Linked DNA regions of Homo sapiens. The protein of the gene in region 1 purifies or fractionates together with the protein of each later gene. This does not show direct contact. Each region holds a gene or a part of one and is shown in the gene's direction. Other genes may lie near its edges. The genes, in order: ZNF331, MRPL45, CEP78, CTTNBP2NL, IFFO1, CENPB and FBXO38.

Region 1 (4,268 bases):
ATCACCTGAGGTCGGGAGTTCGAGTCCAGCCTGACCAACATAGAGAAACCCCGTCTCTTCTAAAAATACAAAAAAAATTAGCCGGGCGTGGTAGCGCATGCCTGTCATCCCAGCTACTGGGGAGGCTGACGCAGGAGAACCCCTTGAACCCAGGAGGCGGAGGTTGCAGTGAGCCGAGATCGCACCATTGCACTTGAGCCTGGGCAACAAGAGCGAAACTCCGTCTCAAAACAAACAAACAAACAAACAAAAAATTATTCTCTGGAAATTCTGGGTAACGTCAGTGGATTACATCAATGTTAATCTTCTGGTTGTGGTATTATATACTACAATCACCAGCTGAGGTAACCAGGTGAAAGGTACACAAGATCTCTCAATTTTATTTCTTGTAACTACATATGAATCTAAAGTCTATCTAATTAAAAGAGAAAAAGATTTTCAGAAAAAAAGCATTTTGTGAACATACTTCAACATTGTGTACAACTATAGCTACTTCCTTGGCATAAATACCAAAAAGTGGGATTTTGAGTCAAAATGAGACTGTGGTTAAGTACCTGCAACATCCTGTAGACCCTGTGACGTTAGTACTTGGAATGAGAGCGGGACTCACGGGGCATAACTGCTACCTGTACATTGTTTACAATGCAGCAAGCAAGGGACACCGAATAGCAGCTCCGGCAGCCTGTGCTAGCGGCCTGCAGAGAATTCCAGGTGACGCTCCAGAGGGGCTAGGAGAGGATACCCTTCTGAGGACAGCCATGGCTCGCCCGGCATCACCCCACTCAAGAGGCCAGACGGGGTCCCAGCTGGGGTGACACAGCTCCTTTCCCAGTCGGGAAGGGGCGTCTGCAGGGACCAGGAAGGGCTTAGCTTGGGGCTGCCCGCTCCGGCACCGACCTGGGACGCGCCCTGAGGCCCCTGCCTGGGACCGTCCCGGACTACATTTCCCAGAGACCATCCAGGAGTACGCCGTGCTGCATGCTGGAACACGGGGCTTGGGGCTCTGGTTTCCCCCGACGGCCCCGCGTCCTCTTCTAGCCTCACCCTCTCCCGAGGCCCCAGCGTTGGGGGACTACCGGGTGCGTCTGCGGCTTTGGGAGAGTGGGAGGAGGGAAAGGGATGGGAGGGGTGCACGCACACGTGTCAGTGTGTCCGCGTGTCAGCATCTGTGCAGGCGCACGTGTGTGTCGGGCTCTGTTGTGTCTGCACATGCGTGTCGGCATCTGTGCGTGCGCACACGCCCGTCAGGGTCTGTGTGCCCGCACAGGCACGTCAACAGCTGAGCACGCTATGTATCGGGGGTCTGTGTACGCTCACATACGTGTCGGGGTCTGGGTACGTGCACATACGTGTAGGGGTCTGTGTGCACATGCGTGTCGGGCTCTGCTGCTGTCTGCGCGCTGCGGCCGCTGGGTGCGCGTGCGCATGCGCGCTGGCCTCCAGGGGGTGGCGGGACCGAGTGTGTGACGCACTTGCGTGGGAGTACGAGGCTGACGCGGCGGCCCTGTCCCCGTAACTGTGACACGGGTGCACGCGAGCGTCATTGGGGGCGATGGGGGCCGTGCTGGGTGCGCGTTTGCACCAGTGACGCAGCCGCTGCATCTCCGCCAGTCCGCGCAGGTGAGATTGGTGCGCGTGGCTCCGAGGGGAGACGGGCACGGGGCTTCTGACGGTGACGCACTTGCTGGAGAGTGTGGGGTGACACAGCCGGGCTCTCCCCATAACTGGTGACCGGGGGTGCTCCAGAGGCTTTGGGTCAACGCAGCCCGTGCCTGTGAACCTCGGCGGTGCGTCCCTGGGACTCTGCTCCGTGAGGTGCGCTCTGGGGGTTGTGCGGGGGCAGCGGTCGGGACGGGTCTCCGTGGCCCACGGATGCACCTCTGCACCGTGTGGGGTGGTGGGGCCCGTAGCATGGCCGTGCTGGGCGTTAGTGGGTATGAGGGGCGCAGATGTGTCTCAGGACAGAGTGAGCTGTGGTGAGGCTGAGCTGTGCAGACTTGTGCTGGGATGGGTGATCGGGCCTTCTGGGTGACGCAGGTGTGTGTGACAACACAACCTGTAGCTTCAGCGTCTCTGTGCTGGGATGGATGATCGGGCCTTCTGAGTGATGCAGGTGTGTGTGACAGTGCAACTTGTAGCTCCAGCGTCTCTGCTGCTTCCCCTGCCTTCACCTCCTAACCAAGCGGTACCTGCCTGAGAACAAGGGCCGCGGAGGGACGTGAGCGCCTGAGCCTCGCCTGGAAATTCACCAGCAAGAAGGCAGAAACAGCCATGAGGTGACGCTTTCAGAGCCAGAAGTGCTGTGCATGCAGGCCACCTGAGTGACAGGGGACGGTGGCCTCAGGAGTAGAATTCCTCCTGTAGAGGGACAGGTCCCTGATGTGGGAGACAGGGAGGGGGGCAGCTCCACGCGTCATCATCTCAATCGCCACAGCGTGCTCTTCAGGAATCTCCCAGAAACTCCATCTCGGGGCCTCGTATTTCTCATTGGTTTTATTAGGTATGGCAGGTGTTACCCTTCCGGTTCTGTTTTCCCCAGGCCAGCATCCTTCAGAAAAAGCATCCCCGAGGAGGAAGACGAATCGTTAAACATCTGAAAGGGTCAGGTGAGTATCCTTTTTTTTTTATATTAAATGATATGTGTTTATAAGACTTAAGACCAAACATTAAAGGTAGATGACCAAGATTTGAGTCCTGTTTCTGCCTCTTAGCTTTTTGAGCCTTCTGAAGATAGGCTTGTGAGGAGGGTGAAATGCATTAACACGCATAAAACCCATAGACGCGCACCCCTGAGTGGGAGTGCACAGTGAGTGCTGCTGTTTTGTGCTAAGTCTGGATGTCTGTACATCAGGAGCAACGTACATATGAAGGTAACTGGGATGGGTGTTTGCAGGTTCACAAAATGAACCACAGCCTCAAATGGCCTAGAACTGTTATCCTTAACCTGAGGGCCTGCCTTTAACTCCACTTACAACTTTCCAAGGGACATTCTGTGTATATTTACTGTATGTGATTATCAGTGTTAGTGTATCTGTCCCCCACCACCACCACCCTAAGGAGATACTCTGTAATTTCATGGCATTAAGAAGGATGGACATGCCCCAAAGACATTTAGACCCATTGGTCTACAATCGAAGGCTGTGTACCTTGACCACAATTATTGTTCAGGATGGTGGAAATGGTTAAGTAATTATACCACGTTCATTTCATGGAATACTCTGCAGCTACAAAGAAGTAAGTTTAGTTATAACCGTAAGAAAGAAAAATGCACCTGACATAATATTAAACACTACTAATAGTTATTAACAATAGTAAATGAAGGAAATGCTTCAGTTGCCTACAAATTCCATTGAATAAGATTTTTGTAAATACCTTATCCAACATGACATTTTAGTATATTATTTAGGATTATTCATGAATCCTTCAAAAGAGAGGAGCCTGGCCACATTTATTGAGCGCATTTTTGTACCATACTCTATTGTGTTTTGCACACACTCCTTAATTTATTCTTACCTTAGTCTGTAACAAAGTACCATAGACCGGTGGCTGAAACCACAAACATTTATTGCTCACAGTTCTGGAGGCTGGAAGTCTGAGAAGAGGGTACCAGCATGGTCAGGTTCTGATGAGGGCCCTTTTCCAGGTTGGAGACTGTCACCATCTTGCTGTGTCCTCTCACGGAGGACATGTGTGTGCTTGGAGGCTCTTTGGCAGAGCTCTAGGAGGTGTGTGTGCTTGGAGGCTCTAGGAGATAGTCTTTTTTTTTCTGTAATTGAGATGGAGGCTTGCTCTGTTGCCCATGCTGGAGCGCAGTGGCACAATCTTGGCTCACTGCAACCTCCACCTCCCAGATTCAAGTGATTCTCCCGCCTCAGCCTCCCGAGTAGCTGGGATTACAGGCACATGTCACCATCCGCAGCTAATTTTTGTATTTTTAGTGGAAACAGGGTTTCTCCTTGTTGATCAGGCTGGTCTCGAACTCCTGACCTCAGGTGATTAATTAGCCGGCCTCAGCCTCCCAAAGTGCGGGATTACAGGTGTGAGCCACCGAGCCTGCCCTGTGGGAGGTATTTTATGTCCTTGCTTTTGCTGGCTTCTAGACACTGCCCCACATGCCTTGGTTTGTGACCCCTTCTTCCATCATCAAAGCTGCAAAGACAGGCCAAGTCCCTTTTCCATCACGTCACTCTGACCCTACTTCTTTCTGTTCATCTCACCCTCTTCTCATTTTGAGGACCCTGGTGATTACATTAGGCCCGCTGAGGTAA
Region 2 (3,928 bases), on another chromosome or scaffold:
TTTACACTACTGAATTTACCAGGGTGATCCCAACATCACGAATCCTTTAACAACTTAACATGAAGCAGCACGTAGCAGTTACCTGCATGGGTTCTGGAATTAGACTGCTTAGATTCAAATCTCGGTTCTGCCAGTTATCATCTATCTAACCTTAAGTAAATTACGTAATTGCTCTGTGACTCCTTTCCGAAATGACAAATCACAAATGTTTTTGTCAATTCACGTGTCTTCTGCTTTAGTAAACATAGTAGAAGACAGTAGTCAATCTCTTTTTTTGTTTTTTTTTGAGACAAAGTCTTTCTCTGTCACCGACGCTGGAGTGCAGTGGCGGGATCTCGGATCACTGCAGCCTCCGCCTCCTGTGTTCGAGGGATTCTCCTGCCTTAGCCTCCCAAGTAGCTCAGACTACAGCCGCCTGCCACCAAGCCCGGCGCTCTCTTGCTGGCGCATGACAACCGTGCGTTCCACCCTACGACTAATTTTTTTTTTTTTTTTTTAGACGGAGTCTAGCTCTGGCTGGAGTCAGTGGCGCGATCTCGGCTCACTGCAACCTCTGCCTCCTGGGTTCAAGCGATTCTCCTGCCTCAGCCTTACAAGCAGCTGGGACTACAGGCGTGTGCCACCACGCCCGGCTAATTTTTGTATTTTTAGTAGAGACGGGGTTTCGTCATTTTGGCCAGGCTGGTCTCGAACTCCTGACTTCAGGTGATCCACCGGTCTCGGCCTCCCAAAGTGCTGGGATTACAGGCGTGAGCCACCGCGCCCGGCCTCCTTTTCCTTTTTTAACTAATGGAATAAACGGCAATGTGCCAAGCATACAGCAATGCCCATTCCCCGGCCTTCAGAAAGCCTCGGGCGCAGGCGCAGCTCGCGTTCAAGCGCTCTCTCGCTGGCGGGGGACAACAGTTCGTTCCACCCTACGCCCAACGTTGTCTCCCTGCGCACGCGCGGCCGTACTCCGCCCTCCTTACTCCACCCTCCCCCACTCCCGCGAGCACGTGCGCGTCCTCGCTGCTCACATTTCGGCGGAGGGCGCGCTCCCTGGAAAATTCCACTCCTGTGCTAGCTCCACCCTATGCGGCTTTTCTCCTACCCGACGCTCTTCACTCTCAGCTCCCTTCCCGGCGGCCTTTGCGGGAACAAGATGGCAGCCCCCATACCTCAAGGGTTCTCTTGTTTATCGAGGTTTTTGGGCTGGTGGTCTCGGCAGGTGGGTAGGGACGGGGCCGATAGGACCCTAGGGGCTACAGGAGAGGACAGAGTCGAGGGAAATACTCTCTGTGCAATTGTCCTTGGTGAGCTGGGACAATACGAGTCATACCTAGGCCGGGGAAGAGGCTTAGGTGGACAGGACCTAGCTGCGGAGCTCAGTGGTCGAATGGGGATAGCCTAGACAGGGCCATGAGAGCGAGTGAATTAACGGATATTAAGTTTTTCCGGATTGGTTTGGGTCTGTCTGGCGAGGAGATATTAAAGGAGAGACAAGTAATGGGTTGGAAGGTGGACTCCCTAATCTTCGATTCTTATAAGTGAACTACGTTGAAGAGTAGCCGAAAATGAGGGCGTCCCATATTGTCACTGCCCCGTCTGAGCAAACCTCATGATCAGAGAGAAAAGATCTCCTGATCTTTCGAGGGTTTATTGGTCAGTTGGGTGCTAAAACGACAGAATAAAGTTTACAGCGAGACTCCCGATAGGATGAGCAAAATATCACGAGTACATATGGAGCAGATGCCTACAAGAGGACTTTGCTTATGCTTTAAGCATAGCATTCAGGGCCCGGCGCGGTGGTTCACACTTGTAATCCCAGCACTTTGAAAGTCCGAGGCAGAAGGATGGCTTGAGCCCAGGAGTTCGAAATGAGCCTGGGCAACATATAAGACCTGGTCTTTACAAAAAAATTTTAAAATTAGCCAGATGCGATGGCGCACTCCTTAGTCCCAGCTACTTGGGAGGCTGCGGTGGGAGGATAGCTAGAGCCCAGGAGGTCAAGGCTGCAGTGAACCGTGATCGTGCCATCGCACTCTAGGCTAGCGATCTGCCTCAAAAAATAATAAAGAATAGTATTCTGCCCATTTCAGTATTGAGTTGGTGTTTCCCCATCACCATCAGTTTTTGAAACTTGCTTTGATCAACTCAGTATCCGTAGGAGTTAGCATAGTCCTGTACTGTGGGAAGTTCTAAAGGAAAGCCTTTAGTAAATGTGATGTTAATAAAGGTTGCTAACTGTCTTCTATTTAGAGACACCCATAAGTATTAAGGTCCTAATGCATTTTTTCCCTGTGATATTGTTTTATAATTGTTCCTGAAGCATTCTTTGGATATTCCCTCTCTATAGTGCTTTGCTTAGAGTTTGTAAAAGATAGTAGATCTTTTTTCTAGGTTCCTAACCTTTCCTTTACCTTCCAGCCAGTTCTGGTGACTCAGTCCGCAGCTATAGTTCCAGTAAGAACTAAAAAACGTTTCACACCTCCTATTTATCAACCTAAATTTAAAACAGAAAAGGAGTTTATGCAACATGCCCGGAAAGCAGGATTGGTTATTCCTCCAGAAAAATCGGACCGTTCCATACATCTGGCCTGTACAGGTGAGGTATTTCTGGGACCCTGACCTGGGATCCTTCTGTCAGAGATCTTCTGGAACTTGGGATGACTTGGACTATGATTGATAATATTTAATTAAGCACGAAGTCAGTTCAACCTCAATAATGATTAACCTTATATACACTATATATCATGAAGTTGTTCTTTGAACTTACTTTCACACTGTCCCTAGAAGGCAAGAGTGAAATTTCTCCATTTTGTGGAAGTAGAAACTGAGGCTCTGAGAGAAGACTTAAATCTTTCTGGCTTTTTTTGTTTTGTTTTGTTTTGTTTTTTGAGACAGAGTCTCGTTCTGTCGCCCAGTGGCACAATCTGGGCTCACTGCAACCTCTGCCCCCCTGGGTTCAAGCGATTCTCCTACCTCAGCCTTCCAAGTAGCTGGGATTACAGGCACCTGCCACCATGCCCGGCTAATTTTTGTATTTTTAGTAGAGATGGGGTTTCACCATCTTGGCCAGGCTGGTCTTGAATTCCTGACTTTGTGATCCGCCCGCCTCGGCCTCCCAAAGTACTGGGATTACAGGTGTGAGCCACTGTGCCCGGCCTTGTTTTGTTTTTTTCTAGTGTAACATAGTTCTCTCTACATGGAAGTCTGTTTCATTAGTCTACTTCATATCCACAATCCTTCCCAATTTTACATTACTTCAATTTTATGAGTTTTTCTCAATCTTTCAACACTTTCTTAATTTTTTTCTTCCTTTATTACAGCTGGTATATTTGATGCCTATGTTCCTCCTGAGGGTGATGCACGCATATCATCTCTTTCAAAGGAGGGACTGATAGAGAGAACTGAACGAATGAAGAAGACTATGGCATCACAAGTGTCGTAGGTGTCTGAGACAATTGGGTATTGGTATTAGAATAACAATTTTTTGTTGCTACTTTATCCCAAAGAGACCTTTTTGGGTTAATTGGGTTGGGTGTCATTCTCTTAATAACATGATGGTATTTTCTCCTTTGTACTAGAGTCTGTATTTAATGCAGAATAATGTGGGCTTCCTGATTCTCAGCATCCCTGCCTTTATTGGTAATTTTTGTCATATCAGTTAGGGAGTTGACTTTGGAGTGTATAGGATCCTTTTTTAATCATATATTTAATTTTTTTTTTTTTGAGATGGAGTTTCGCTCTTGTTGCCCAGACTAGAATGCAATGGCACGATCTTGGCTCACCGCAACCTCCGCCTCCTGGATTCAAATGATCCTCCTGCCTCAGCCTCCTGAGTAGCTGGGATTACAGGCATGTGCCACCATGCCCGGCTAATTTTGTATTTTTAGTAGAGATGTGGTTTCTCCATGTTGGTCTGTTGGTCAGGCTGGTCTTGAAC
Region 3 (3,500 bases), on another chromosome or scaffold:
TTTAAGTGGGAAGGTAAGTCAACAGAGTAGAGGTGATATATCCAAGTGATAGACTGTTTCATTGCCAGTAGCAGTATAAAATCTTAGAAATCTTTTGGAAAGCAATTTGGATGTAAGTATTGCAGAGCCTTAAAAATGTTTATTTGCTTTGACCTAAAATTCCTTTTTTATTTATTGCAAGAAAATTATTCTAAATATGGGAGAACAAAACCTTCATGCTTAAAAGTGGTTATTTTATCTTATAATGTTGAAAGTTGGAAACAGTCTTGTTAGCCATAAAGGAATGATTACATGAACCAGTAAGCTGGCTCAGTAGAATATTTTATTTAGCCCACTAAAAAAGTCAAAGTTGGCCAGGTGCGGTGGCTCACGCCTGTAATCCCAGCACTTTGGGAGGCCAAGGCAGGTGGATCATGAGTTCAGGAGATCGAGACCATCCTGGCTAACATGGTGAAACCCTGTCTCTACTAAAAATACAAAAAATTAGCTGTGCGTGGTGGCGGACACCTGTAGTCCCAGCTACTCAGGAGGCTGAAGCAGGAGAATGGTGTGAACCTGGGAGGTGGAGCTTGCAGTGAGCCGAGATCAGGCCACTGTACTCCAGCCTAGGCGACAGAGCGAGACTCCATCTCAAAAAAAAAAAAAAAAAAAGTCAGAGTTATGAGTTCTCTGATTCAGTGTTAAATGGAAGAATGTCTAACATAAAATTGGATATACAGTCTTCCCTCAGCATACTCGGGTTATTCCATGACCCCATCCTCCAGCATATACCCAAATCCATGCAGGCATGCTCAGGCCCCACAGTTGACCTGTGGAACCAGGGTATATAAAAAGTCAGTCCTCCTTATGAACTTTTGCGTTGGAGAATACTTGTTTTTGTTTGTTTGTTTGTTTTGAGATGGAGTCTCGCTCTGTTGCCAGGCTGGAGTGCAGTGGCGCAATCTCAGCTCACTGCAACCTCTGCCTCCCGGGTTCAAGTGATTCTCCTGCCTCCGCCTCCCGAGTAGCTGGGATTACAGGTGCGCACCACCACACCCAGCTAATTTTTATATTTTTAGTAGAGACGGGGTTTCACCATGTTGGCCTCAATTTCCTGACCTTGTGATCTGCCTGCCTCGGCCTCCCAAAGTGCTGGGATTACAGGCATGAGCCACCGTGCTCAGCCAGAATACTGTATTTTTGATCTGCATTTGGTTGAAAAAAATCTGCATATAATGGGCCTGCATACTTCAAGCCCTTGATATTCAAGGGTTGTTGTACAGGATAACATTTGATATTTCTGGGGTTGTGTTCCAGAAAAAATATAAACTTTTCCATGGGTAGAAGGGAGAAAGGGGAGCAGCTGTCAGGGAGGAAAATTACTACAACACTTTATCATTAGTCGTTTTTAAGTAGTGGAATGTTAAGTGATTTTACTTTCTAATTGTTTCATTTCATATTTCCTTATTTTCTTTAAGGAGCATGAATTACTCTTTAAAGGAGTAATGAGGAGGGAACTTTCATAAATATGTAACATTATGTTCTCACTTCCTCCACTAGAGGGAGAAACAATTTCATGTAATTGTGCTTTGATGTGATTTTTAGAACTAGTTAGGAATGGAGGATTTTATTCTTCTTTCTCCAATTGTGATAAGTTTTTTGCTTATTTCCATGTTTGGTTAGAAGTTCTTTGATAACAGTTCTAAATATTAAAACCATTATATAAATAATAAGTAGAGGAATTTTGCAATTTCTTTTTCCTTTTTCCCATAAAAACTTGGTTGGCTTTAACTGATAATGAAACATTAAAGAATTTGTAGTTATTAGGGCATTTACTGATTTTTCAAATGTGTTCTGAGTATAAAAATATATGCCCTTTGAGAAAATTTTTGAAAATCGTGAAAAACATTGAGGGAAATAAAAACCACCTCTGCATGGTACACACACCTGGATATTTTGTAATTTGCCCTTTTATCTTAAAAAGATATCAAAATATTTTGTCACATCATTGAATGCTCTTCCACATCAGAGAATCTTACTTAGCTTATGGACCATCTCCCAAGAAAAACGACCATTCATTAACTCTGGTTAAGACCCATATCATTGTTTTTAGTGGCTCCATAGAGCATTTCATCATAGGGATGTGCTATTTTTTTTTTTTTTTTTACCAATCACAATTTGGAGGCTTTTAGTTGTAAACAGTCCTGTGACATTATGTTGGTAGATAAATCTTTGTCCACATGTTTGGTGATTTCCTTAAGGTAAATTCCCAGACATTGAATTGGTAGTATTTACTAAAGATTACTCCAGAAAGTGGCACCAATTTCCTTTTCTAATGTAAGTGTATGGTAGAGTTCCTTCCCTCAACACTCTGGAGGAATTGGAGAATCTCCATCATGTCTAATTCCTTTTGTATTTCAATCTTTACCAGAAAGAGCCCTGTCCCTTTTAATTGGTTACTTGACTTTTAATTTGCTGTTACATAATTCAGGTGTGTTAAGTGTGTTAATAGGGCTTCCTATTATAAGGGATCCACAAATAAGAATAGAATTTCTTTTTCATAGCCTTAATTTTTATTTGACTCAATAAATATATGTGTATGCCTTCTATGGTGAGCTGTCATAAATTTATTTTGGAAAGAGTGGAAATAAATCTGTAATGTGCGAATCTGATGTTTTTGGTAATTAATTTCCCTAGCATGGTATGATATTATACAAGCAGTAGGCTATAATCCTGATATCTGAGTTCACTTCTGGCTCTGTCCCTAAACACTTGGTGAGCTCAACAGCTGGAAGAGTTTTGGGGATCATATTGGGAATTAATTATAATATTTACTTTATTACTTAATACTAGGAAAAACTGGAGGAGTGCCTAAAGCAGTTAAAGGAAGAAAGAGTGATAAGGCTTAAGGTTGATAAACGAGTCAGTGAGGTAAATAAAAGTTTTCTTACCTTTTGAGAGTTTTTTGTTTTGGTTTTGGTTTAACTTTAAGTCATACATACACACACTTTATAAACTTTAAAATGAGAAAATATAGTGTATTGCAAATGGTCACAGTATGTTAATGTTTGTATTTACTTATATTTGGTGACCGTGTGATCTGTATTCCAAAAAGCATGTTTTTTAAAAATGTAAAAATTGTAGTTTGTTTTCTTTTCCTCTGTTTTTATATGACTGGAGCTTATTTTCTGTTCATGATGCATCAATTCAAGAATGCATTTATTAGGCTTATACTGTATATACAATTGCGTAAAAGATGGGGATGAGACTATCTACTGAAGGGGAATTAGGAAAATGAATAAATAAGGTAAAAGATAATGGAAAACCGGTAAGAATGCAATGAAAGATAAAAATCTATACCATGAGGACTAAATTAGGTGAATGTGCATAAGAGCAGGGCATAAACTAGAAAGTTCTACATAACTATAATTTATTATTACAAAGCAAGTTTAAGGAGGAATTTTTGAAAGTATATGCATTGGTTTGAAAGACAGTTAATCATTCAATAAAGGTTGAGCACC
Region 4 (3,500 bases), on another chromosome or scaffold:
GAGCTGAGATCACACCACTGTAATCCAGCTTGGGTGACAGAGCAAGACTGTCTCAAAAAAAAAAAAAAAAACACAAAACAAACAAACAAAAAAACAGGCTTTGAGCCAGTTCTCCTGTTTTCTATTCTACATTTCACCTCTCCTCTGCAGTACCTGCCACCTCCAGGTTCCATCTCTTTGGGGCTCTGCAAGGCAAAACAGCTTCCCTCCTTCAAAGTAAAGTAGTTACCACAACTCCAGCCTCTTTTCTTCTTCAAAATATTATTAAAATTTTTTCTCTGCTAGAGGCTCTCTCCTTTGTGGGGTTTTAGTCTTTTTATTCCATTTCTGTAATTTTTGAGGACTCCCAAAAGGGAGAAGATAAGACTTACCACTTTTGGCCAAAAGCATGTCTTTCTATTAAATTGAAAAATTAGATTAAAAAAAGGAAATGTGCCAAATTTTTTTTCTTTCATTTATTTTGAGAGACAGGGTCTCGCTGTGTTGCCTGGGCGGGAGTACAGTGGCTATTAACAGGTGCGATCATAGCACCCTATAGCCTGGAACTCTTGGGCTCCAGTGATCCACCTCAGCCTCCCTAGTATCTGGGACTACAAGCATACACCACAGCACCAGTCTCTTCTTTTTTTTTTTTTTTTTTTTTTTTTTTAGACAGAGTTTCACTCTTGTTGCTCAGGCTGGAGTGCAATGGCACAATCTTGGCTCACCACAACCTCTGCCTACTGGGTTCAAGCGATTCTCCTGCCTCAGCCTCCCGAGTAGCTGGGATTACAGGCATGTGCCACCATGCCTGGCTAATTTTGTATTTTTAGTAGAGACAGGGTTTCTCCATGTTGGTCAGGCTGGTCTCGAACTCCCAACCTCAGGTGATCCACCTGCTTTGGCCTCCCAAAGTGCTGAGATTACAGGCATGAGCCACCACTCCTGGCCTCTTTTTTTTTTTTTGAGACAAAGTCTCACTCCGTTGCCTGGGCTGGAGTGCAACGGCATAATCATGGCTCACTGCAACCTCGACCTCCCTGGGCTGAGGTGATCCTTCCACCTCAGCCTCCTGAGTAGCTGGGACTACATGCACACCTCACCATGCCTGGCTAATTTTTGTACTTTTTTGTAGAAATGGGGTTTTGGGTTGGGCACAGTGGGTCACACCTGTAATCCCATCACTTTGGGAAGCTGAGGCAGAAGGACCACTTGAGTCCAGGTGTTTGAGACCAGCCTGGGCAACATGGCGACACCCCATTTCTACAAAAAATCAGCAGGCCATAGTGGTGTATGCCTGTAGTCTCAGCTGCTCAGGAGGCTGAGGTGGGAGGATCACTTGAGCCTAGGAGGCAAAGATTGCAGTGAGCCGAGATGATGCCACTGCATTTCAGCTTGGGTGAGAGTAAGACCCTGTCTCCTCAAAAGGAAGGAAGGGGGTGGGGGAGGGAGAGGGAGAGGGAGAAATAAATGGCTGGTCTCAAACTCCTGTGCTCAAGCAATCCTCCTGCCTCTGCCTCCCAAAAGTGCTGGGATTACAGGCATGAGCTCATTTTTATTTTTATAGACAGGTTTCATGTCCCAGAAAATTTACTCTCTTCACTCATAAAAATTTTTAGTGAGAAGACTAAGAAATGGCCTTTGGGACAAGAGTGCTCTACCCTGGAGGTCTGGGCCAAGGCACTTCTGAAGCATGAGCAGAAGCTACTAAGCAATCAGAATATTTGCAGTTGTAGATGGGATTATGTGAAAAATGTCTCTTTAAATTTGTATTCTTGGCCATGTGTGATGGCTCACACCTGTAATCCCAGCATTTTGGGAGGCTGAGGCGGGTGGATCACTTGAGCCCAGGAGTTCCAGACCAGCCTGGGCAAGATGGCAAAACCCCATCTCTACAAAAAATACTAAAATCAGCTGGGCGTGGTGGCGCACACCTGTAGTCCCAGCTACTTGGGAGGCTGAGAGGTGGGAGAATCTCTTGAGCTCGGGAGGCCAAGGCAGCAGTGAGCCATGATTGCACTACTACAGTCCAGCCTGGGTGACAAAGCAAGACCCTGTCTCGAAAAATAAATATATTTGTCTTCTCCTTAAAATTGGGCTTAATCCTTTGGCACCAGGGTAAGTGAAATAGGGGTAGGCAAGTTAAATAAAAGGGCGTATGAAAAATCTCCATTTAAGGTCTCTATATTTGAGCCTTTTTACATGCAGTAGGAAGTCAAGAGAGTCTATCCACCTCTTATCTAACTATATAAAAATGTATATTATTAGTTAAACAAGGCACACTTAGAATGTCACCTATTTGAAATGTTGAATTTCAGGCTCCTTCTTTGGTGCCTCTGGTGATTTGAGAATTGAGAAGAAAATCTCAGCTTTCAGGTTTCTGTGGTCCTGTCTTGCTCCATCACCTACACCTGGCCCCTAGTAACACCAAACTGCCTGCAGTTTCTTGGAATTTCTGTTAATTCTCGACACCTCCTCAACCCCTCTAGCTAATTAGTTGCTCTCTTCTCTCTGTTTGCATATCATTCTCTACATACTTCAAGTAAAGTAAGTATCTTACTGTTTAACACAGAGCTTTCATGTCTTTCACTGTAAGGCAGTGTGCTCCTTGATAGCCCTTGCTGGGTTTCATTTATTCGTTTGTTTGTTTGATCTCTGGAACTATCTAAGGTGCCTGATTTGGCACTTATTATTGGTTGTATTAATAAATGTGACTCCTTGATATTTGAAAATGAAATTTAAAAAATTCTTTAAAGGTGATCCTAGACCTTGAGGAAGAAAGGCAGCGGCATGCACAGGATACGGCTGAAGGAGATGATGTCACCTACATGCTAGAGAAGGAAAGAGAGAGGCTGACTCAACAGGTAATTAAGGTAGAGGGATTCACAGTAGCATTTGCCTGGAACAGCATTTCCCAAAGATTATTCTGCAGGATGCCAACTGGTATTGTTCAGAAAAGGGGCTTTGTGGTCAAATAAGTTTAGGAACTACTGGATTAAGCAAAGTTAAACAGGTTTCTAACTTTGTTAGGATCTTTAGTATGCAGAAGCACATTGTGAGTCTTCAAGAACAAGATAGGGTATTCTGTGTTTAGCAAATCCATGGTTTTATAAAATCTTTTATTGGCATAGATCCCTCACTGTGGGATTATTATTGTTCCGTAGAACACTCTTTGGGGAATGGTAACTTAGCGCTTGTAGCTCTCAAACTTTTGACTTAGAACCCCCAGTAAGAAGTGACATTTTATGTCACAACCCAGTATATGTAGACATACACAGTTACGCCTGAAACAAAAATCTCATGAAATCATATATAACCCCTACTGCTACAGTACACATTGATGTTTTCTGTTTATATATTTTTTTAAAATTCTAGTCGTGGCTCAGTTAGTTTCCCCATCCATTAATGGATCTCAGAGTTTGAAAAACACTGAGTTTCTTCAACCCTTTCCCTCTCACGCAGAGTCTCTGCCTCAAATAGGGTTGGGAAGACAATTAAAACAGGCTATATTTGTGTAAAAA
Region 5 (3,500 bases), on another chromosome or scaffold:
TCCCCTGCCTTGTGCGTGACCTTTTTTTGAGCCCCCATTTTCCCAACATAGGAATGGTCCCTGCTTTCTCTCTTCAACCCAGGGATACAGTTTTTTGGAAGAGAGATATTTGGTCCATGCAGAACACATGGATATCGCTCTCAAATTCTGCCCATGTTAAGGGAACCTTATAAGTGAGACCAGATGGAAATGGAGGTGAAAATGAACCTGTCTGTGTGAAGTCTGGCCAAAGAACAAATAGAACTGTAGTGGGCTTCCAGATGATTCATTTGTAGATTTTTTTTACCCTGTAAGATTTCCTTAGGCTTAACCTTTAGCTATAACTGCCTTACTTAAGTTTCTTCCAGGCTCTGTTGAGCTCACTGTCAGATAGCCCCTCCTGCCCTCTTTCACACATCTTGTCCAGGGTTAGCGTGCCCTTGACAGGCTTACTGTCTCCCTCCAGGGACTCGTGGGCTCCCGGCGCATGAGGGCACCACAGTTCATGCCTTCACATCATAGATGAAGAAACCAAGACCCAGAAAAGATAAGGGTCTTAGCTAAGAAAACATAATCTGATGCGACTGGTTCCCTTAGTGGCCTGACTGTATGCATGAGAATGCCAGGGAGGAGGGGAGAAGCACCTACGGGACACACAGGGAAGGGGGCTGGGAGCCAGGAAGGCTGGGAGCTGGGCTGTGTGGGGAGCCAGCAGGGTGGTGGCTGGGCTGGCTGCCTCCTCCTGCTCTGCCCAGCAGGGAGGGGCAGTCGAGGTGATGTGGAGGAGTTATTATTAGGAATACTGCAGTGCGGCTGTGAATGAGGAGATGGGACCCAGAGGCTGACACAGGAAGGAAGATGGAGGGAAGGGGAAGAAAGGGCTTCACCCAAGGCTTCAGAAGCTGCCCACTCAGATTTTAATTTTCTTGCTGTCTTCTTGGCCCCTTCCTAACCACCTTTCTTGTGTTGAAGTTTCTCTCTTGGTGCAGTTCCCCTCCCTTCTCGGGTTGACAGAAGTGATGAGCTCACAGGAACAGGATTTGAGATGTGCTGCTACGCCAGCTAGACTGCAGGGCCCTGGAATGCCGGGCGGGTCCTAAGCAGCACGTTGCCCTGGCTTCCATCTCTGTGATGGAATAGAATATGCACTGCCTGCCATGGCTGATGAGACATGACAAAGCTGGCTCTGGGAAGCATGCCCTACCTAGGACCCTGCCCTGTGGCCCAGGGTGTCGTCCGGCCCACTTGCAGTCTTAATCTCTGAATTCTGGGCCCTGGAACAGGCTGTGTCTAGTTCTCATTTGCCGTACTCACCGGGCCCCTTTACATACTCTACTTTCTCTTTCCCTCTGGGTTTGAGTGCTAGTAACCCCAGGCTCGTGTGTCCACTGCTGTCATGCTGCTGTGGGACTTCCGGCCTCTGAGCCAGTCTGGTCACCTCTCTGTGACTCCCTTAGAGGAGGCTCTGGGTGGGTAGTTTCTGGAGCTAGTGGGGAAGGACTTTGAGTGTCTCCTACCAGGCTCTTGACCCACTCTGTTGATACACTATGTGTCCTGCAGATGCTTTTACAGGGTTAAATGATACCACAAGAGGCAGGGCAGCGGGCTCGACGAGCTCTGTTCTGGTGCGGGCAGGAGGCGGGAGCCCGGATCTGTGCGACTGAAGGTGGGAGACTGGGCCGGGTGGACCTGGTGGTCTGGTGTGGGCAGGAGGTGGGCAATGAGGCCAGCCGGACAGCTGGCTGAGCTGGGGCCTGAGCAGGGATGGGCATCACGGAGGACCGGAGCCTCAGCACTTGCCCAAACAGAGCTCCTGGTGCACAGCCCGGAGGTTCCGGGAAGGCAGCTGGCGAGCTCGACGCCCATCAGGAAGCACAGAGCCGCGTGACAGCTGCAGTTGGTCACCAGCTGGCTGGCCAGGCATTCCTGTGCCCTGCTCCTCCCCATCCAGGGAACCAGAACTGGGGTCTGAGGCCTGAGCCAGAGAGGTGGGGACAGGGAGCCATGGGGGCAGGGAAGGACTCTGTACCTAAGCTCTCTCCGCCCTTCCCATGTCTGTCAGGTGGGAAGAGGAGTACACGGTGCGGATCCAGCTGCAAGACCGTGTAAATGAGCTCCAGGAGGTGAGGGTGGCGCCCCACTTGCTGCTGGTGCTTCCCTGGGTACCCCTGTCTGCCCATGACCCTGCTGCCGTCTCCCTGTCCCTCCTTGGCATCTTTATCTTCCTCCCACCTCGGCAGTGCCACCAACATCAGGGTTTCTCCCAACTGCAGGAAGCCCAGGAGGCTGATGCCTGCCAGGAGGAGCTGGCACTGAAGGTGGAACAGTTGAAGGCTGAGCTGGTGGTCTTCAAGGGGCTCATGAGTAACGTGAGTGCAGCCCCAGGCTTCCCGAGGGTCGAAGTGAGGCTTCTGAGGCCAGAAGAGTAGGCCCTTCTAGTGTTGGCCTGTTGGCCTCCCGTCCACGGCTCCTCCCCTTCTCTTTGCTTTCCTTCCCTTTTTCCCCTAGCCACCCCTAACTCCAGAGAAAGACAAGCAACAAAAGTCTCGGTGTTGCGTCACAGAGGTGGCGCAGCTTCTGAGGGCCTGGGGTTGCAGAGCAGTTAGTGAGCAGCTTCTGGGGTGGAGGCTCTGCAGCTGGCGCCGGGGCGCTGGGCCGATTCCTCAGCCTCTGAGGCCTCACCTTTGGCGTGGGGAAATAAACGCGTGCGCTCTGCAGGAGTATTGTGAGGGTGGTCATGTACTCGGGACAGTGCCCAGCATGCAGTGTTAGCTGGAAGAGTGTTAGCTGTTGCGATTATTATAGTCCTTTCTCCACTCTTATAATTCCCAGGAGTCTCTTTCTCTCTGGGAATGTAAGTTCTAGGAGGATGAGGACCGCTAGTCGTTCCAGTGAGCCCCCTGCATGTCCCAGGCACTGGCCATGCCCTCCAGGGCTTCCGTTTGGCCAGGGAGCAGTGGCCCGAGCCGCCCCATGCCCAGCATATTCACACAGTGCTGTGGGGAGGCCACCGCTACCCAGGAAGAGGGGTGCAGTCAGCTCAGGGAGACTCCACAGAAGAGGCACCGGTGCAATGTGGTGGGAAGGATGAGGACCTTGCCAGGCCTAATTCGTCCTTGTCTGGAGAACTGGGCGCCTCCTCACTGTTCCCTGGGCTCCCTGGACAGAACCTGTCGGAGCTGGACACCAAGATCCAGGAGAAAGCCATGAAGGTGGATATGGACATCTGCCGCCGCATCGACATCACCGCCAAGCTCTGCGATGTGGCTCAGCAGCGCAACTGCGAGGACATGATCCAGATGTTCCAGGTGAGGACGGAGCTGCCCTCTGCTCTCAGGGGTGGGTGGGGCAGGTGGATGCTTCCGTGGCGGCTGGCCTGGAACGCAGGCCCTGCCTCCTGCTTGGGGAGCCTTACCTGGCAACTGGGGCCCTCACGGGGCTAGACTGGGGGGTAAGGAGCAGCATCAGGAGGGGCATCGTGGAAGCTGTCTCTAACGCCGTCTCTCCCTTCCCCCTCTCTC
Region 6 (4,285 bases), on another chromosome or scaffold:
CACAGTAGCCTGGTTTTTCTCCTGCTTCAGGGGCTCCTCCACTTCAAGAGTCTCTATTTGGTTCTTTCTTTCTTTCTTTCTTTTTTTTTGAGATGGAGTCTCACTCTTTTGCCCAGGCTGGAGTGCAGTGGCATGATCTTGGCTCCCTGCAACCTCTGCCTCCCAGGCTCAAGCGATTCTCCTGCCTCAGCCTCCCGAATAGCTGGGACTACAGGTGAGTGCCACCACACTTGGCTAATTTTTTGTATTTTTAGTAGAGACGGAGTTTCACTATATTGGCCAGGCTGGTCTTGAACTCCTGATCTCAAGTGGTCCCGCCTGCTTCGGCCTCCTAAAGTGCTGGGATTACAGACGTGAGCCACTGCACCTGGCCTCTTTCTTGAGCCCTTAACCTTGGAGGACCCAGGGCACTGTCCTTGGTCCTCTTTTCTTCTTTGTCTACACTCACCCACAGCTTCATCCAGCCCCAGGTCCTCAGCCTGTCCCCCTGGGTCACAGCCTTCCCCTCTGCCAATGCTGGAGTTCCCCTTAGTGCTGCCCTAAGAGATTTTTAAAAACACAGCTATACATTCATTGTTTTAAGAGCTTGGCATTTTAATGTTTTGCTGCAGGAGAGGGAGGCTTCAGGGATTCACACTTATGTATATACATGATGTTATTTCTGTAAGTGCAAACACATACATTTATGGCTATATGCATGGAAAAGCCCAGAAAGTGACACACCAAGATGTTATGAGTGTTTATCTATGGGTTGTGGGATTACTAGAACTTTAAAAATGTCATTAGCACCATCAAATAGATTTACAACTGTAATGCTGATTTTAAAAATAACTTAAGTGTGTAACAATAGGTTACATACGCTAGTGTTCATTCATAGCTGGAATGCTACACAATCATTAAAAAGCGTGTTGGCAATGATACTTACCGATATGGCAAAATTCTCACTACTTGATGCCAGGTAAAACAGCAGGAGATGCCAGATATACAGTCTATACAGTCTGATGCCAGTTTTATATAATAAATTTTTAAAAAGAAAACGACATGCATCTAGAGAAAAGACTGGAAGGAAATGTATCAAAATGTTACCTGTGCATCTCTCCAGGTGACGTGAAAAGCGTTTTTCAACTTCTTGAATTTTTCAGGTTCCGCAAAAAAAAAAGTGCGTTATTTTTACCTTAATTAAAAAAAAAAAAAACAAACAAAAACCCTGGTTCTTATTCTTTTTGAGCAGCAAGTCGCTGTCCGCCGGGCGCAGTAGCGATGCACCGCGTCCCCGCCCGCGTCGCTGCCGGGTCGCCGGAGGCCGCAGCACGGGCAGGTCCAGCAGGCCGCAGCGCCCCCCCGCGGTATGTCCCGGCGGCGGGAAGGGGGTGGGCGCGGAGGGCGGGGAGGAGGCGCCGGGCGTCCCCGCGCTTCCCGCGAGATCCCGCTCCGCCCGCTCCGCCCCGCTCGCCGCGCTCCCAGCTCCCCGCGCCGCGGCACTTCCTGCCTTCCGCGCCCGCGCCGCCCGCCCTCGTCTGCGCCCGTCGCCTGCCGCCCGCCGCCCGGCGACGCGCCCGCCGGCGTCCCCGGAGGTGCCCCCGGCCCGGCCGGGTCGTCGCCCCGCCGCCGCGCCCGCGAGCCGCTTTGTCTCGGGCGGGGCGCGCGGGAGAGGCCGCCAGGTGCCCCCCGCCACGGGCCCGGGCCCCCCGCCCCGGGGCGGCGGCGGCGGCGCCGGGCCCCGGGGCGGGGGGCGCGCCGGGATGGGCCCCAAGAGGCGACAGCTGACGTTCCGGGAGAAGTCACGGATCATCCAGGAGGTGGAGGAGAATCCGGACCTGCGCAAGGGCGAGATCGCGCGGCGCTTCAACATCCCGCCGTCCACGCTGAGCACGATCCTGAAGAACAAGCGCGCCATCCTGGCGTCGGAGCGCAAGTACGGGGTGGCCTCCACCTGCCGCAAGACCAACAAGCTGTCTCCCTACGACAAGCTCGAGGGCTTGCTCATCGCCTGGTTCCAGCAGATCCGCGCCGCCGGCCTGCCGGTCAAGGGCATCATCCTCAAGGAGAAGGCGCTGCGCATAGCCGAGGAGCTGGGCATGGACGACTTCACCGCCTCCAACGGCTGGCTGGACCGCTTCCGCCGGCGCCACGGCGTGGTGTCCTGCAGCGGCGTGGCCCGCGCCCGCGCGCGAAACGCTGCCCCCCGCACCCCGGCGGCGCCTGCCAGTCCGGCCGCGGTGCCCTCGGAGGGCAGTGGCGGGAGCACTACTGGTTGGCGCGCTCGGGAGGAGCAGCCGCCGTCGGTGGCCGAGGGCTACGCCTCGCAGGACGTGTTCAGCGCCACCGAGACCAGTCTATGGTACGACTTCCTGCCCGACCAGGCCGCGGGGCTGTGCGGAGGCGACGGACGGCCGCGTCAAGCCACCCAGCGCCTGAGCGTCCTGCTATGCGCCAATGCCGACGGCAGCGAGAAGCTGCCCCCGCTGGTGGCCGGCAAGTCGGCCAAGCCCCGCGCAGGCCAAGCCGGCCTGCCCTGCGACTACACCGCCAACTCCAAGGGTGGTGTCACCACCCAGGCCCTGGCCAAGTACTTGAAGGCCTTGGACACCCGAATGGCTGCAGAGTCTCGCCGGGTCCTGCTGTTGGCCGGCCGCTTGGCTGCCCAGTCCTTGGACACCTCGGGCCTGCGGCATGTGCAGCTGGCCTTCTTCCCTCCCGGCACCGTGCATCCGCTGGAGAGGGGAGTGGTCCAGCAGGTGAAGGGCCACTACCGCCAGGCCATGCTGCTCAAGGCCATGGCCGCGCTAGAGGGCCAGGATCCCTCAGGCCTGCAGCTGGGTCTCACGGAGGCCCTGCACTTTGTGGCTGCCGCCTGGCAGGCAGTGGAGCCTTCGGACATAGCCGCCTGCTTTCGTGAGGCTGGCTTTGGGGGTGGCCCTAATGCCACCATCACCACTTCCCTCAAGAGTGAGGGAGAGGAAGAGGAGGAGGAGGAGGAAGAAGAGGAGGAGGAAGAGGGTGAAGGAGAGGAAGAGGAGGAGGAAGGGGAGGAGGAGGAGGAGGAAGGGGGGGAAGGAGAGGAATTGGGGGAGGAAGAGGAGGTGGAGGAGGAGGGTGATGTTGATAGTGATGAAGAAGAGGAGGAAGATGAGGAGAGCTCCTCGGAGGGCTTGGAGGCTGAGGACTGGGCCCAGGGAGTAGTGGAGGCCGGTGGCAGCTTCGGGGCTTATGGTGCCCAGGAGGAAGCCCAGTGCCCTACTCTGCATTTCCTGGAAGGTGGGGAGGACTCTGATTCAGACAGTGAGGAAGAGGACGATGAGGAAGAGGATGATGAAGATGAAGACGACGATGATGATGAGGAGGATGGTGATGAGGTGCCTGTACCCAGCTTTGGGGAGGCCATGGCTTACTTTGCCATGGTCAAGAGGTACCTGACCTCCTTCCCCATTGATGACCGCGTGCAGAGCCACATCCTCCACTTGGAACACGATCTGGTTCATGTGACCAGGAAGAACCACGCCAGGCAGGCGGGAGTTCGAGGTCTTGGACATCAAAGCTGAGTCACTGGACCTAGCTGTGCCCCCAACCTAGATTGGCAGCACCACCCCAGGGCAGAGGACTCTCTGGGCACCCGCTGTGCATGGAGCCAGAGTGCAGAGCCCCAGATCCTTTAGTAATGCTTCCCCTGGTCCTGCAACAGGCCCGGTCACCTCGGCCGGGCCCGGGGCTGAGGTCAGCCTCACTGCCTGCTTATTGCCTCTTTCTCAGAATCCTCTTTCCTCCCCATTTGGCCCTGGGCTCAGGGGACCAGGTGGGGCGGGTGGGGAGCTGTCCGGTGCTACCACACCGTGCCCTCAGTGGACTAACCACAGCAGCAGCCAGGGATGGGCCCTGGAGGTTCCCGGCCGGAGAGTGCCTCTCCCCTCTGCCATCCACGTCAGGTCTTTGGTGGGGGGACCCCAAAGCCATTCTGGGAAGGGCTCCAGAAGAAGGTCCAGCCTAGGCCCCCTGCAAGGCTGGCAGCCCCCACCCCCACCCCCCAGGCCGCCTTGAGAAGCACAGTTTAACTCACTGCGGGCTCCTGAGCCTGCTTCTGCCTGCTTTCCACCTCCCCAGTCCCTTTCTCTGGCCCTGTCCATGTGACTTTGGCCCTTGGTTTTCTTTCCAGATTGGAGGTTTCCAAGAGGCCCCCCACCGTGGAAGTAACCAAGGGCGCTTCCTTGTGGGCAGCTGCAGGCCCCATGCCTCTCCTCCCTCTCTGGCAGGGCCCCATCCTGGGCAGAGGGGCCTGGGGCTGGGCCCA
Region 7 (3,500 bases), on another chromosome or scaffold:
AGTACTTTGCATTAGATCCTTTCTTGCGCAAAAAGTAACTGTTAGGCCTGTGCTTTTTTTTAAGGACCCAGTGGTCTTCAGCGTGTAGTAAAACCAACCTCAATTACTGTTCATGATTCAGAGAGTGATGATGAAGAAGATAGTCTAGAACTCCAAGAAGTCTGGATTCCTAAGAACGGTACTCGGCGTTACTCTGAACGTGAAGAAAAAACTGGAGAGTCAGTGCAGTCCAGAGAATTGTCAGGTGAGAAATTGTCTTTCTCTGAACTATTAATGAGAGTCACTATCAGAACTGACACACTTGGCCTTAATATGACAACTTGGGTGCAGTTAACATATATTACGGAATGTGACAGGAAGCAAGAAATGCACTTGCCCAAGTAAGGGAAATCTGGGTGGTGCTCTTGTAGGCAATACAACACAACAGTGTTGTGGAATGAGGGCTCAGGGAAGAAGAGAAGTAAGGATTATAAGTCTACAGTGGAGGCTTCAGTTGTGGCATCAGGGTGTCAGAGATTAGTGAGCGAAAAGCCTGTGCCTTATGTAAGGGATGACTGCTGAGTCATCCAGAGCAATGAAAAGCAACCATTCCCCAGTTGATAATCTGTCCAGTTGTGCTTAATGAATATTGGTGGCTAGTTTGGTGCTGGAAGGAGTCCTAAAGCATATTTTTATAATCCCTCACATCCCTTTAAATCTAGGCAACAACCCTCTGCAGTGCCTCACCAAGAAACTGTACTTCTCTCTTAACTTTGAAGTTCATACTTCTTCCTTGTCTTTCCTTCCCTTTGGTTTCGCAGAACCACGTGCTTACCACTTTTAGCAAAAGATGGATATTTTGCAAATTGTGCAGTCATTTTTCCTTGGGTACCCTTACTCCTTAATATTTTTGAATGTTCAAAACACATTTAACACTGACCCTGGAACATTTATGTAGTACTATTATCTGGAAAGTTTAGTTCTTTGGACTTGAAATAATTTGCTAATCATTGACTCATTATTCAATTTTTATTTCTTTTAAGAAATTCAGATAACTTTATAATGTGGTTGAAAGAAGGTTTTATGGAAACTGAAATTTAGGAAAAGTAATATGACCAGCTGACTAACCTACCTTCCCAGACAGTGCAGTTTCTAAATTTAGCAACTAAATCCTCTGTTGGCCAGACAAAACCTATTTATTCCTTTATATCTTCATTGAGCCTTACTATGCCCCAGGTACTGTGTTAGGCACTGTGAGGGATACAGAGATGAGTAAGTCATGGTCTGTCTTTACAGAAGTTCTAGTCTAGTTGAAGAGTCATGTCAAAAACAATAGGTAGTAATATTACAGGGCATATACTACAACTACAGTTGCTTTGGGGTGGGGGTGCAGAAGAGATGGAGTAGAGGACCAGGGAGGACCACAGCTGACAAATTGGTGAGAACAAAGCCCCTGAGGTAGTAAAGCAGGGGTATTTTGAGAGAAAAGCTGGAGCTGGAATGTAGAATGTATATGGAGGGTACGACATGGAAAGATGGTTTGGAATCAGATCATAGTGAGGTTTGAAGGCATAGCTAAGGAGTATAAACCAGATAGACACTAGGGAGCCATAGAGAATTTTATAGCAGCTCAGTGATGTGATCACAGTTATACTTTAGGAAAATTAGTGTTTAGTATACATTATTTCCTGTTCCAAATTTACTCTTGCGTTTTGTCCAGAATTTATACTGAAATCTTTTCTTTTCCTCGGGCCGTTCTTCTTTTTCTATAAGCAGTAAGTGGAAAAGGCAAGACTCCACTTCGAAAGAGGTACAACTCCCATCAGATGGGCCAGTCGAAGCAGTTTCCCCTCGAGGAAAGCAGCTGTGAGAAAGGCTGTCAGGTCACCAGTGAGCAGATCAAAGCCGATATGAAAGCAGCTAGGGATATTCCTGAAAAGAAAAAAAACAAGGATGTTTATCCCAGCTGCAGCAGCACCACCGCCAGCACAGTGGGAAACTCCAGCTCACACAACACTGCTTCTCAAAGCCCCGACTTTGTAAGGACGGTGAACAGCGGCGGCTCTTCCGAGCCTAGCCCTACAGAAGTGGATGTGTCCAGGCAGTGTGCCTGCTCCCCCGGTGGGTCAGAGGACTCTGAGGCCATGGAGGAGGGAGATGCAGAGAGTTCTGTCTGCCCCAGATGCTGCTGTCACAGGCCCCAGGAATCCCAAAGGAGAACTAGCAGGTGTTCTGATGAGGAACGTCCTTCAACCAGCCGAGCCTGTGTTGTGAATGGCCCGGATGGTACGAGATCCGCCTTTTCCTTTAGGACTCTGCCACAAGGGGGGTCTTCAGGCCCAGCACATGATGAGAGGACTAATGGGAGTGGCTCTGGGGCTACAGGTGAGGACAGGAGGGGGAGCTCCCAGCCTGAGAGTTGTGACGTGCAGTCTAATGAAGACTACCCTCGGAGGCCCCTAACCAGGGCCAGGAGCAGACTGTCCCATGTACTGCTGGTATCTGAGTCAGGTATGACAATGCTCCTAGGATTAGCAACTGCAGGGTAGGGCTGCAGAAAGGCATGAACTTGTTTCATGAGTTTTCTTACAAAAAGCCAGTTTGGCAAATTAAATTCTATTTTGGGGTTTTGTGGGTCATGTGAATTTTGAACTAATTTCAGCAATGGTTTGGAGGGTGGGTGTGTAAAACAGTTTATAAAATGTCCAACCTGGAAAGCTCAAAATAGTTCAGCTTTTAAGGAAAATGTCATTGTGTATATTTACCCTAAATATAACACTGACTGACACCTAAGCCCCAGTAGATGAACTCTGCTGCCATCACACACTTAGAGAAGTCTTAACTTAGGAAAGTTTTAAACTCAGCCAAAAGGCAAGGACTTGACGTTGCTGGGGCTGGGGGAACACATCTCAGTGCAGCTTCCTGTGTATACCCCTCTTTCTGTCTCTGCAGTACTTAGTAATTTTTTCAGAAATCTAGTTTTGCTTCAAGTAAGATTTGCCAGGAGATAAGCAGGTAAGTAAATGGTTTGGCTGAGAATTATTTTGGTGAAAATACTCAAAACATATATGTGTATTTAATTTCATTAATGTTTATAATGTGTAGCCATGGATTGGGTGTAAGCATATTTATTAATCATAAGTCTGTTACTGTTTCTGACCTTATTTTTAAGTACTCTTTCCTGCCTTTATTATATCATTACTGCCTGACAGTGATAATAATGTATTTTAATTTTCTTCAAGTAGCCCTCAGTTTTAAAATCTTAAAATCAGTCCCAGAACATAGGCAGTCAGTGCTTTTTGTATATTCAAAATAGAACTAATGGATTCATACAGAGCTAAACAGAACAAAAGTAAGCTTTCATGAGATACATTTGAGACCTTAGTTATGTGCTAGTTACCATAGTTGCATAAACTCATTGAAATATATGAGTTTTATTTGAAGACTTTTTTATGCTTTGCAAACAGTGGTTCTGCCATATGGTGAAAGTACTTTTCCCAGCTTAAATTGTAAATGTTTGA

The links.
Region 2: the proteins of ZNF331 (region 1) and MRPL45 purify together in Homo sapiens (affinity purification with mass spectrometry, with the first as the bait; one large-scale study listed by BioGRID). This does not show direct contact.
Region 3: the proteins of ZNF331 (region 1) and CEP78 purify together in Homo sapiens (co-immunoprecipitation; 3 studies listed by BioGRID and IntAct, with this or other methods). This does not show direct contact.
Region 4: the proteins of ZNF331 (region 1) and CTTNBP2NL purify together in Homo sapiens (affinity purification with mass spectrometry; 2 studies listed by BioGRID and IntAct, with this or other methods). This does not show direct contact.
Region 5: the proteins of ZNF331 (region 1) and IFFO1 purify together in Homo sapiens (affinity purification with mass spectrometry; 2 studies listed by BioGRID and IntAct, with this or other methods). This does not show direct contact.
Region 6: the proteins of ZNF331 (region 1) and CENPB purify together in Homo sapiens (affinity purification with mass spectrometry; 2 studies listed by BioGRID and IntAct, with this or other methods). This does not show direct contact.
Region 7: the proteins of ZNF331 (region 1) and FBXO38 purify together in Homo sapiens (affinity purification with mass spectrometry; 2 studies listed by BioGRID and IntAct, with this or other methods). This does not show direct contact.

The regions. Positions count from the first base shown.
Region 1 is NC_000019.10:53,536,677-53,540,944, forward strand, and holds the start of ZNF331 (zinc finger protein 331), read left to right. Parts: upstream 1-1,468; 5' UTR 1,469-1,620; exon of another isoform or gene 1,621-2,276; intron 2,277-2,539; 5' UTR 2,540-2,606; intron 2,607-4,268. UniProt on the Homo sapiens protein: May be involved in transcriptional regulation. May play a role in spermatogenesis.
Region 2 is NC_000017.11:38,296,040-38,299,967, forward strand, and holds the start of MRPL45 (large ribosomal subunit protein mL45), read left to right. Parts: upstream 1-1,128; 5' UTR 1,129-1,144; coding exon 1,145-1,210; intron 1,211-2,409; coding exon 2,410-2,587; intron 2,588-3,311; coding exon 3,312-3,429; intron 3,430-3,928.
Region 3 is NC_000009.12:78,260,075-78,263,574, forward strand, and holds part of CEP78 (centrosomal protein of 78 kDa), read left to right. Parts: intron 1-2,832; coding exon 2,833-2,910; intron 2,911-3,500. UniProt on the Homo sapiens protein: Centriole wall protein that localizes to mature centrioles and regulates centriole and cilia biogenesis. Involved in centrosome duplication: required for efficient PLK4 centrosomal localization and PLK4-induced overduplication of centrioles.
Region 4 is NC_000001.11:112,451,714-112,455,213, forward strand, and holds part of CTTNBP2NL (CTTNBP2 N-terminal-like protein), read left to right. Parts: intron 1-2,735; coding exon 2,736-2,843; intron 2,844-3,500. UniProt on the Homo sapiens protein: Regulates lamellipodial actin dynamics in a CTTN-dependent manner. Associates with core striatin-interacting phosphatase and kinase (STRIPAK) complex to form CTTNBP2NL-STRIPAK complexes.
Region 5 is NC_000012.12:6,549,543-6,553,042, reverse strand, and holds part of IFFO1 (non-homologous end joining factor IFFO1), read left to right. Parts: intron 1-1,539; exon of another isoform or gene 1,540-1,645; intron 1,646-2,041; coding exon 2,042-2,102; intron 2,103-2,252; coding exon 2,253-2,348; intron 2,349-3,146; coding exon 3,147-3,287; intron 3,288-3,500. UniProt on the Homo sapiens protein: Nuclear matrix protein involved in the immobilization of broken DNA ends and the suppression of chromosome translocation during DNA double-strand breaks (DSBs).
Region 6 is NC_000020.11:3,783,941-3,788,225, reverse strand, and holds the start of CENPB (major centromere autoantigen B), read left to right. Parts: upstream 1-1,485; 5' UTR 1,486-1,742; coding exon 1,743-3,542; 3' UTR 3,543-4,285. UniProt on the Homo sapiens protein: Interacts with centromeric heterochromatin in chromosomes and binds to a specific 17 bp subset of alphoid satellite DNA, called the CENP-B box.
Region 7 is NC_000005.10:148,425,458-148,428,957, forward strand, and holds part of FBXO38 (F-box only protein 38), read left to right. Parts: intron 1-64; coding exon 65-244; intron 245-1,755; coding exon 1,756-2,490; intron 2,491-3,500. UniProt on the Homo sapiens protein: Substrate recognition component of a SCF (SKP1-CUL1-F-box protein) E3 ubiquitin-protein ligase complex which mediates the ubiquitination and subsequent proteasomal degradation of PDCD1/PD-1, thereby regulating T-cells-mediated immunity.